Linked DNA regions of Homo sapiens. The protein of the gene in region 1 purifies or fractionates together with the protein of each later gene. This does not show direct contact. Each region holds a gene or a part of one and is shown on either strand. Other genes may lie near its edges.

The links.
Region 2: the proteins of IGFL1 (region 1) and NPTX2 purify together in Homo sapiens (affinity purification with mass spectrometry; one large-scale study listed by BioGRID and IntAct). This does not show direct contact.

What each region holds. Positions count from the first base shown.
Region 1 is NC_000019.10:46,228,197-46,231,929, forward strand, and holds IGFL1 (insulin growth factor-like family member 1 precursor), read left to right. Parts: upstream 1-1,545; 5' UTR 1,546-1,578; coding exon 1,579-1,603; intron 1,604-1,911; coding exon 1,912-1,965; intron 1,966-2,077; coding exon 2,078-2,321; intron 2,322-2,624; coding exon 2,625-2,634; 3' UTR 2,635-3,047; downstream 3,048-3,733. UniProt on the Homo sapiens protein: Probable ligand of the IGFLR1 cell membrane receptor.
Region 2 is NC_000007.14:98,626,972-98,630,370, reverse strand, and holds the end of NPTX2 (neuronal pentraxin-2 precursor), read right to left. Parts: intron 3,207-3,399; coding exon 3,027-3,206; intron 1,970-3,026; coding exon 1,742-1,969; 3' UTR 502-1,741; downstream 1-501. UniProt on the Homo sapiens protein: Likely to play role in the modification of cellular properties that underlie long-term plasticity. Binds to agar matrix in a calcium-dependent manner.

The DNA.
Region 1 (3,733 bases):
CTGAACAAGGCTTCATCTCAAAAAAATAAATAATTTTTTTTAAAGTGTCATAAACAGTTGAGCACAGCATTCTGTTGAATGCACACTGTCCCATTTTCTAACCCATTTCTTCACTTAAAAATAACATTGTTTATGCCCAAGTAAATTGATTTTCCATGCTACTAGCACATCCTAATCTGTGTCCTAGAAAACACTGCTGTACCCCACAGCAGCAAGGAACAGAGGCCAAGGGAGCAGACAGGGAGATGGTGCTGGAAGCAGGGTCTGCTCTGTCGAGGGAGAAGGTGGGTGCTGAGCACTCTGGTATTTATTGAAGTCATTTCTCTGCAGCCTCTTCCTGTGTCTCCTGCCTCCAGAGAGAAGCCCCTATCCGTGCTCCCCAGGAACACAGATGCAGGATCTTCCACACACACAAATCTAACCACATCCATGCCCTGCTAGGAGCCAGCCATGGTGCCTAGAGGGTGACAGGTCACCTTGCCTGGCCCGGAGGAGAACGGCTTGTCCATGCCATGTGTGGCCTGTGAGCTTGAGCGGAGGAATTCCTGCAGAAGCTGGGCAGGGGTAGGGGGGCACAGAACTGACCCAAAACAGCTCCTTCCCCTCTGTCCTCACATCCTGACCCCAAGATGGCTCTTCTCAGGGAAAATCACAACCCAACCCTCTGAAAAAGCACATTAAGGAAAAACACCTTTGAGAATCTCAGGGGGGGATGTGGAATTTCTCCACCAGAACTTCACAGTGATAATGACACCAAACACAAGAACGACAATAACCAAAATCAGGAGTTTTATTCTCCTACCTTCTCTCTCTCTCTCTCTCCTCTCACTGTCATGAACGTCACGAAGACACTGACTTTGCGTTTTCTACTCAGCACTGCATCACTGGTGTCTGACACGAAGCCTGGGACATGTAGGCTCCCAAGTGGACCTGTCCTGGGTAAATGACCATTAATGAGACAGAGAAGGAGATGAAGAGCCCCCAGAGGAGTGTTGAGTCCCAGGGGTCCCGCCAGCTCCACTCCCACCTTCCAAACCTGTGAAAGTCAGGTGCCTGAGTCACACAGTCTCTCCCACCTGAATGCCATGAGCTGCAGGTGACTGAGAAGTTACTGGATTCTTGACCATGTGTTTCGGTTGTGAGGTTGGGACCTAATGGGACCCTTTGAAATGATGTCATGGGTTAGCAATGTCCCAAGGAAACTGAGGAAAGTCATAGCTCAGTAGGATCCTGTGGAATCGCTGTGTGGACATGTGAGTGTCGGAGAGTGTTAATGCCAGGAGCATCCTGAACCTTCCTATTTTCCAGAGGACTCAGTGTGGGGGACGATTGGGGCACATAGCACAGAGAAGGTGGAGGGTGTACCGCTTCTCTCCTGATTACAAAGGTGAGATCAAAGCTACAATGACACGTACCCTGCCTGGCACCTCTCCTGCCCAAGGACCCAGCCTGTCTCTGCAGGACTTGCAGGAGGGCAGGAAATGCCATGACATCACCAGCTCCACTAGAAATATGGGATAAAAGGAGTGGCTGAGATCTGCTGATCCCCTCCTCACTCCACTGCAACCACCCAGAGCCATGGCTCCCCGAGGCTGCATCGTAGGTAAGGAGGACAGGACCCCATTCCCACCTGAGCCCATCTCCAATCTCAGCCACCACCAGGGCTCTCTCCCTACCCCAAACTACACCTCATCCCTGTTCCCATGCCCAGCCAAATCTCCAGGCGTGAATTGCTCACAGCAATTCCCCATCCATAGTGCCCAGATCAGCCCCATCCACAGCCCTGTTTCAGTCCCTGAGCTGCTCAAAGCCATACCGAGCCCTGGTTCCACCCAGTCTTCTTCTAAATGTCAGTGCCAGTCATATCTGTGGCTGTCCACTCACCCCATCTTCCCTTTCCCTTTCCCACAGCTGTCTTTGCCATTTTCTGCATCTCCAGGCTCCTCTGCTCACACGGAGCCCCAGGTGAGCCCAGGAGTGTTTGGGAAGCTGGAGGAGGGGTACACCTTCCAGGGGACCCCAGGCTGGGACCCACCTGCCACTACCTCCTGGATCTCACCAGCTCTGTCTCCTCCAGTGGCCCCCATGACTCCTTACCTGATGCTGTGCCAGCCACACAAGAGATGTGGGGACAAGTTCTACGACCCCCTGCAGCACTGTTGCTATGATGATGCCGTCGTGCCCTTGGCCAGGACCCAGACGTGTGGAAACTGCACCTTCAGAGTCTGCTTTGAGCAGTGCTGCCCCTGGACCTTCATGGTGAAGCTGATAAACCAGAACTGCGACTCAGCCCGGACCTCGGATGACAGGCTTTGTCGCAGGTGAGTCCTGTCCCCTCCGTGGGATTGTGGGTGCAGGGTAGCTGCATGCCTGTTCTGCCCTGGGTGGAGCCCCCATTCTCCTTGTCTCCCTGTCTCTGCCCCCTGCTTCTATTCAATCCACCTCTCCCTTTCCCTACACCTGTGTCTCCATCCATTTTTATTTCCCTCTCAGAATCTCACTCTCTCTACCCCGCTGTCCTCTCCTCCTGGCTCTCCTGTCCTCATTTCTGCCCATGTTCAGTCTCGCCCCCATCTCTGGCCATCTCTGTCCCGCTCAGTGTCTCTCTCTGTCACTATCTCCAGTGTCAGCTAATGGAACATCAGGGGAACGATGACTCCTGGATTCTCCTTCCTGGGTGGGCCTGGAGAAAGAGGCTGGTGTTACCTGAGATCTGGGATGCTGAGTGGCTGTTTGGGGGCCAGAGAAACACACACTCAACTGCCCACTTCATTCTGTGACCTGTCTGAGGCCCACCCTGCAGCTGCCCTGAGGAGGCCCACAGGTCCCCTTCTAGAATTCTGGACAGCATGAGATGCGTGTGCTGATGGGGGCCCAGGGACTCTGAACCCTCCTGATGACCCCTATGGCCAACATCAACCCGGCACCACCCCAAGGCTGGCTGGGGAACCCTTCACCCTTCTGTGAGATTTTCCATCATCTCAAGTTCTCTTCTATCCAGGAGCAAAGCACAGGATCATAATAAATTTATGTACTTTATAAATGAATGCTGTAGAATTCATGAATTAGAGAGCTTGGACTGTTGAAAGGGGTCACAGAGGGTGACGTGGGGCCCCTTCTCTCTGTCACCCTGAGGCATCTGGGCCTTTCCATTTGTTCTGTTCGTGCACACACTTATTTTCTCTTTTTCCATTTATTTTTAAATTTATTATTTTGTTATTTGTGCTCGGTGACTAGGACCCTGGCCGCACCTGGGACAGGGGCCACCCTCCTACACCAGCCTCCACCACCCCATGGCTCCCTGAACCCAGTCACAACATCGGGAGCAGCCCAGGTGGGGTGGGGAGGAGGTGGGGATCGCGAGAGGGCTTCGGAGAGGCACTCCCTCTCCCACCAGTTCTGGGACAGAACAGGACCCGGCTGTTTGTTCTTGATGTACGTTAAGGAGATGCAGACAGACTGGGAAAGAACGGAGGTTCTTTCTCCAACTGGCTATGGGGAGAAGGTCAGAGTAGCTTACCAGACCAACTCAAAGCTACAAACTTCTTTTTCTAGTGCTTATATGCATTCTAAGCTCCACGCCTATGTGCGGAGTGCACCTGCAAGACAGCGTGTTTCATTCTTATCAATATCTAATCTTTAACTAGTGTCCAGGGTCTGGAAAGCTTTCTCCAGAGTCTTGGAAAGTTTCTTAATCTTAAATGGACCCCAGTATGAGGAATATGTGGAAGAA
Region 2 (3,399 bases), on another chromosome or scaffold:
CCTTGGAGTGAGCAGTGGAAGGGACAGAGCCCTCAGAGCCACAGGACGGCTTTGAGCCCAGCTCTATCCTCTATCGGCTGCATGATCCCAAAATAGCTTTAATTGTTGTGTATTCACCTGTAAAATGGGATTAGCTCATTCAGGGAGGATTCAATGAGATGTCTAAAGAACACCTACACAGAGTAGACGCTAAGCAGGTACCACACCTGGAAGGCGGCCGCAGGTCTTCTAGCTAAGCTGGCTCTCCTGGTTGAGAAGACAGGGGTGAGCTGGGGACAAGGAGCCTGGGCAGAGCCTGCCAGGCACCCACAGCCTGAGCCAGGCATTGAAATAGGAAGGATGGACAGCTGGACCACACCCTCCTCTAACCATCCTCAGCGCCCCCAAACCCACCAGAAGCAGGCTGCGGCAAACCAGAGACATCATCCTTCTGCCAGAAGTTGCAAAGCCCTACCCCTTCCCACCTTCAGCCCCAGAACATGAGGAAGACAAACACAGAAGCATCTTTCAGTGCACTTTAATCGAAATTCCATCATCAGAAGAGTTCTCGTAGCATACAATGTCAGGATGGGCATGTCGACTTGGTCCTACAAATGGAATATCCACAGATTTGCACTTCAAACATGTATGAAAAATAAAATATATAATATTTAGCTTTATAAATTTCCCCACTTAGTCACTTTATCTTTAAAATAAATTACTACTCCCGTCCAATACAGTGAGTAGCTTGGAGTCACTCAGACAATCTCTAGCCAAATGATCTCTGTTTTCTTGAGGAGTTCTGTAGGGAAATACTTGATGAAGACAGTCCAGTGCTTACAAGAATCAACATGAATTTAAAACGAGCACACTCTTCACAGTGGGGCGGAACATCAGAAAATGGGAGCCTTCTTCTAATGGCTGTTCTTTTCTGTTGGGAAAAAAAAAAAACAAATCCTCCAAACCACACCGGATGGTTGTAAAAAGCTGCAACGGAACCTTTGGCACCAGATGAGAAGAGAGGCCTTTTAATGCCATAGCTAGTGATGATTCAGTCAAAGCATCAGTCTAAGGAAGGATGATGGGGGAAGGGACCGGAGATCACAGCCCTTCTCCTTTCTGAGCCCCCCTCCCCCCCGATGTCCCCTTTCTGGAGACACAGACAGCCCCTCTGCTTTGGGGAAGGCGGGGCTTTGTCTGGGCAGGCTGGGCGTTCTTCAGACGGGAAGATTCACAATGTATAGAACACAAAGGGAGAGGCCCTTTTGCAGATCGGGGGGTAGCCGCTTGCTGCGAGCTTAGTCACCAGCGGGGATGCACTCAATGCACAAGGGACATGGCCACTCCAGCGGGACGGCTGCACAGCCATGAAAGGGGACAGACAGAAGGGGTGCACGGGACACCAAGGAACTGGAAGGCGGCAGGACTCAGGCTGCGATAGCATTTACAGGGGCTCTGAAGAGGGGCTGCTGGACCTGCCTCCACTTGCAGCAGGAAGGCAGATATCCACCCACTTGGGGCAGGTGTCTTGGGGGCATCTTCCCAGGGGACCCTGGCACTACTTCAAACAGCAACAGAATATTGGTAGGGAACAAACAAGCCAGTGACAGACACTGCCCCAGCCCTGGTCTTAGAGATTCCTGGGGAATGAGCTCTGGGAACCCTGAGCCCAGACTGACAAGAGTTTAAGTGGGGCAGTCTATGGCCCTGAACTTCCATGGCAACAGCCTGATCCCGGCCTCCTGGACAGAGGAGAAGGCGGCTACAAGTCAAGGAGACGCTCCTCACACGTCTCCACGGGCCACTTGGAGGCCCCTCCGAACACATCGACGTTATTGTCCACCCACGGGATGATGTTGCCCGGCATGTTTGTGGAGCAGTTGGCGATGTTGACAATTTCTTGTGCGCGAAGGACGCGGTCCCATATGTTGAACTGGCTGAGCTCCCCGACAAATGCCTGAGTGGCATCAAACCTACCCCCCACGGTGTCCTGGGGAATGGGAACAAGAGAGCTGCGTCAGGGCTGGTTCACAAGTCCCCCTGCACACGGGCTGCAGACAGGAGATTTGGGCATTTCTCTGATGCCCCCCAGCTCTGACCAACACTACCTGTTTCTGTAGGTTCTGAAGCTCCCAGGCATGTCAGAACTGGGAGGTGGCATCGCTCAAATCTCCCCATTTTATACAGGGGAAACTGAGGCTGGTAAGGGAAGACACTGCTCAAAGTCCCAAAGCCAGGATCAGAGCCAGGTCTCATGACTCCCAGCCCCTCCCAGCGGAGATGTAGCAGGGGAAATTGAGGGAGGAGTGGGCCAAGAAGGAACCAGACTCAAAGCCCCCCAGTGCACCTGGAGTCTACGCCCCACTGTCCATCATCAAAAACCCAAATACAGACTGGAATGCCAACACTTATCTGTCCTAGACCAGACAGCCAACTTAGCCATTCCCTCCCCTAGATGGTAAGTTTCTTGAGGGCACTTTGAGGTGCCACCCTTTCATCCCTGTCTCCCCCACAGGCTGAGCACCCACTATGGATTACCTAAGTGCCCCTTGCTGGGTATCAGGGTTAAGACCCTGAGCAGGGGGCTCCTGGAAGACACCAGCCCCACAATCCTGAGTTGGTACCATGAGCATCCCAGGAGGGTCCCTCACACAGCCTCCTCCCAGATGGAAGCTGGAGCCTGTGTCACGAGATGACCCATGACCACAGGGACACTCACACCCCTCTGTGCCAGGTTCTATTTGGAATCTGTTTGAACCACACACCCACCTGGTCCCTGCCATGCAGGCCGTGACCCCACGCCCAACCTCTAACCACAGGACAGCAAGGGCCAGGCTGCGGGGGTTCTCACTCCCCCGACCTGGCTGTCAGGACACTGTGGCCAGGTCTGAGGGGCCAACAGCTGGGGCCGGGAGCAGGAACAGCTGCAGGCCTGGCCTCGTGCTGCTCAGTTGGCCCCTCCTCGCACCATCCCTGAAAGGGCGCACGGCCACCCTGTGCCCATCCTGCACCCACCCTGTGCCCACCTGCACCTGCCCTGCACCCACCTGCTCTTGTCCAAGGATCAGCACGCCCCCGGGCTTGATGGGGTGCCAGGGGGCCAGGTTCTCCCCAGTGCCCAGCTTCTCTCCGTCCTGGAATGCCTCCCACATGCCATCCCGTGTCGTCCAGGTGACACAGATGTGGTGCCACTTGCCGTCACTGACAAACAGGGGCAGCTGCGCAACCTGTGAGCAGCAATGTGCAGGTAAGGACCTGCTGGGCCCACGCCCTCAGGGTCCCCCAGGGCAGGAAGCAGGAAGGACACCCCACAGTCCCCCTGGGCCACACTGCTCCTCCTGTCACCGGGGTCATGCGTGGAGAACATGCAAGGGGGCAGCCTTGGTGGAAACCCTGACCCCAGAGCAGCCCTCACATTAA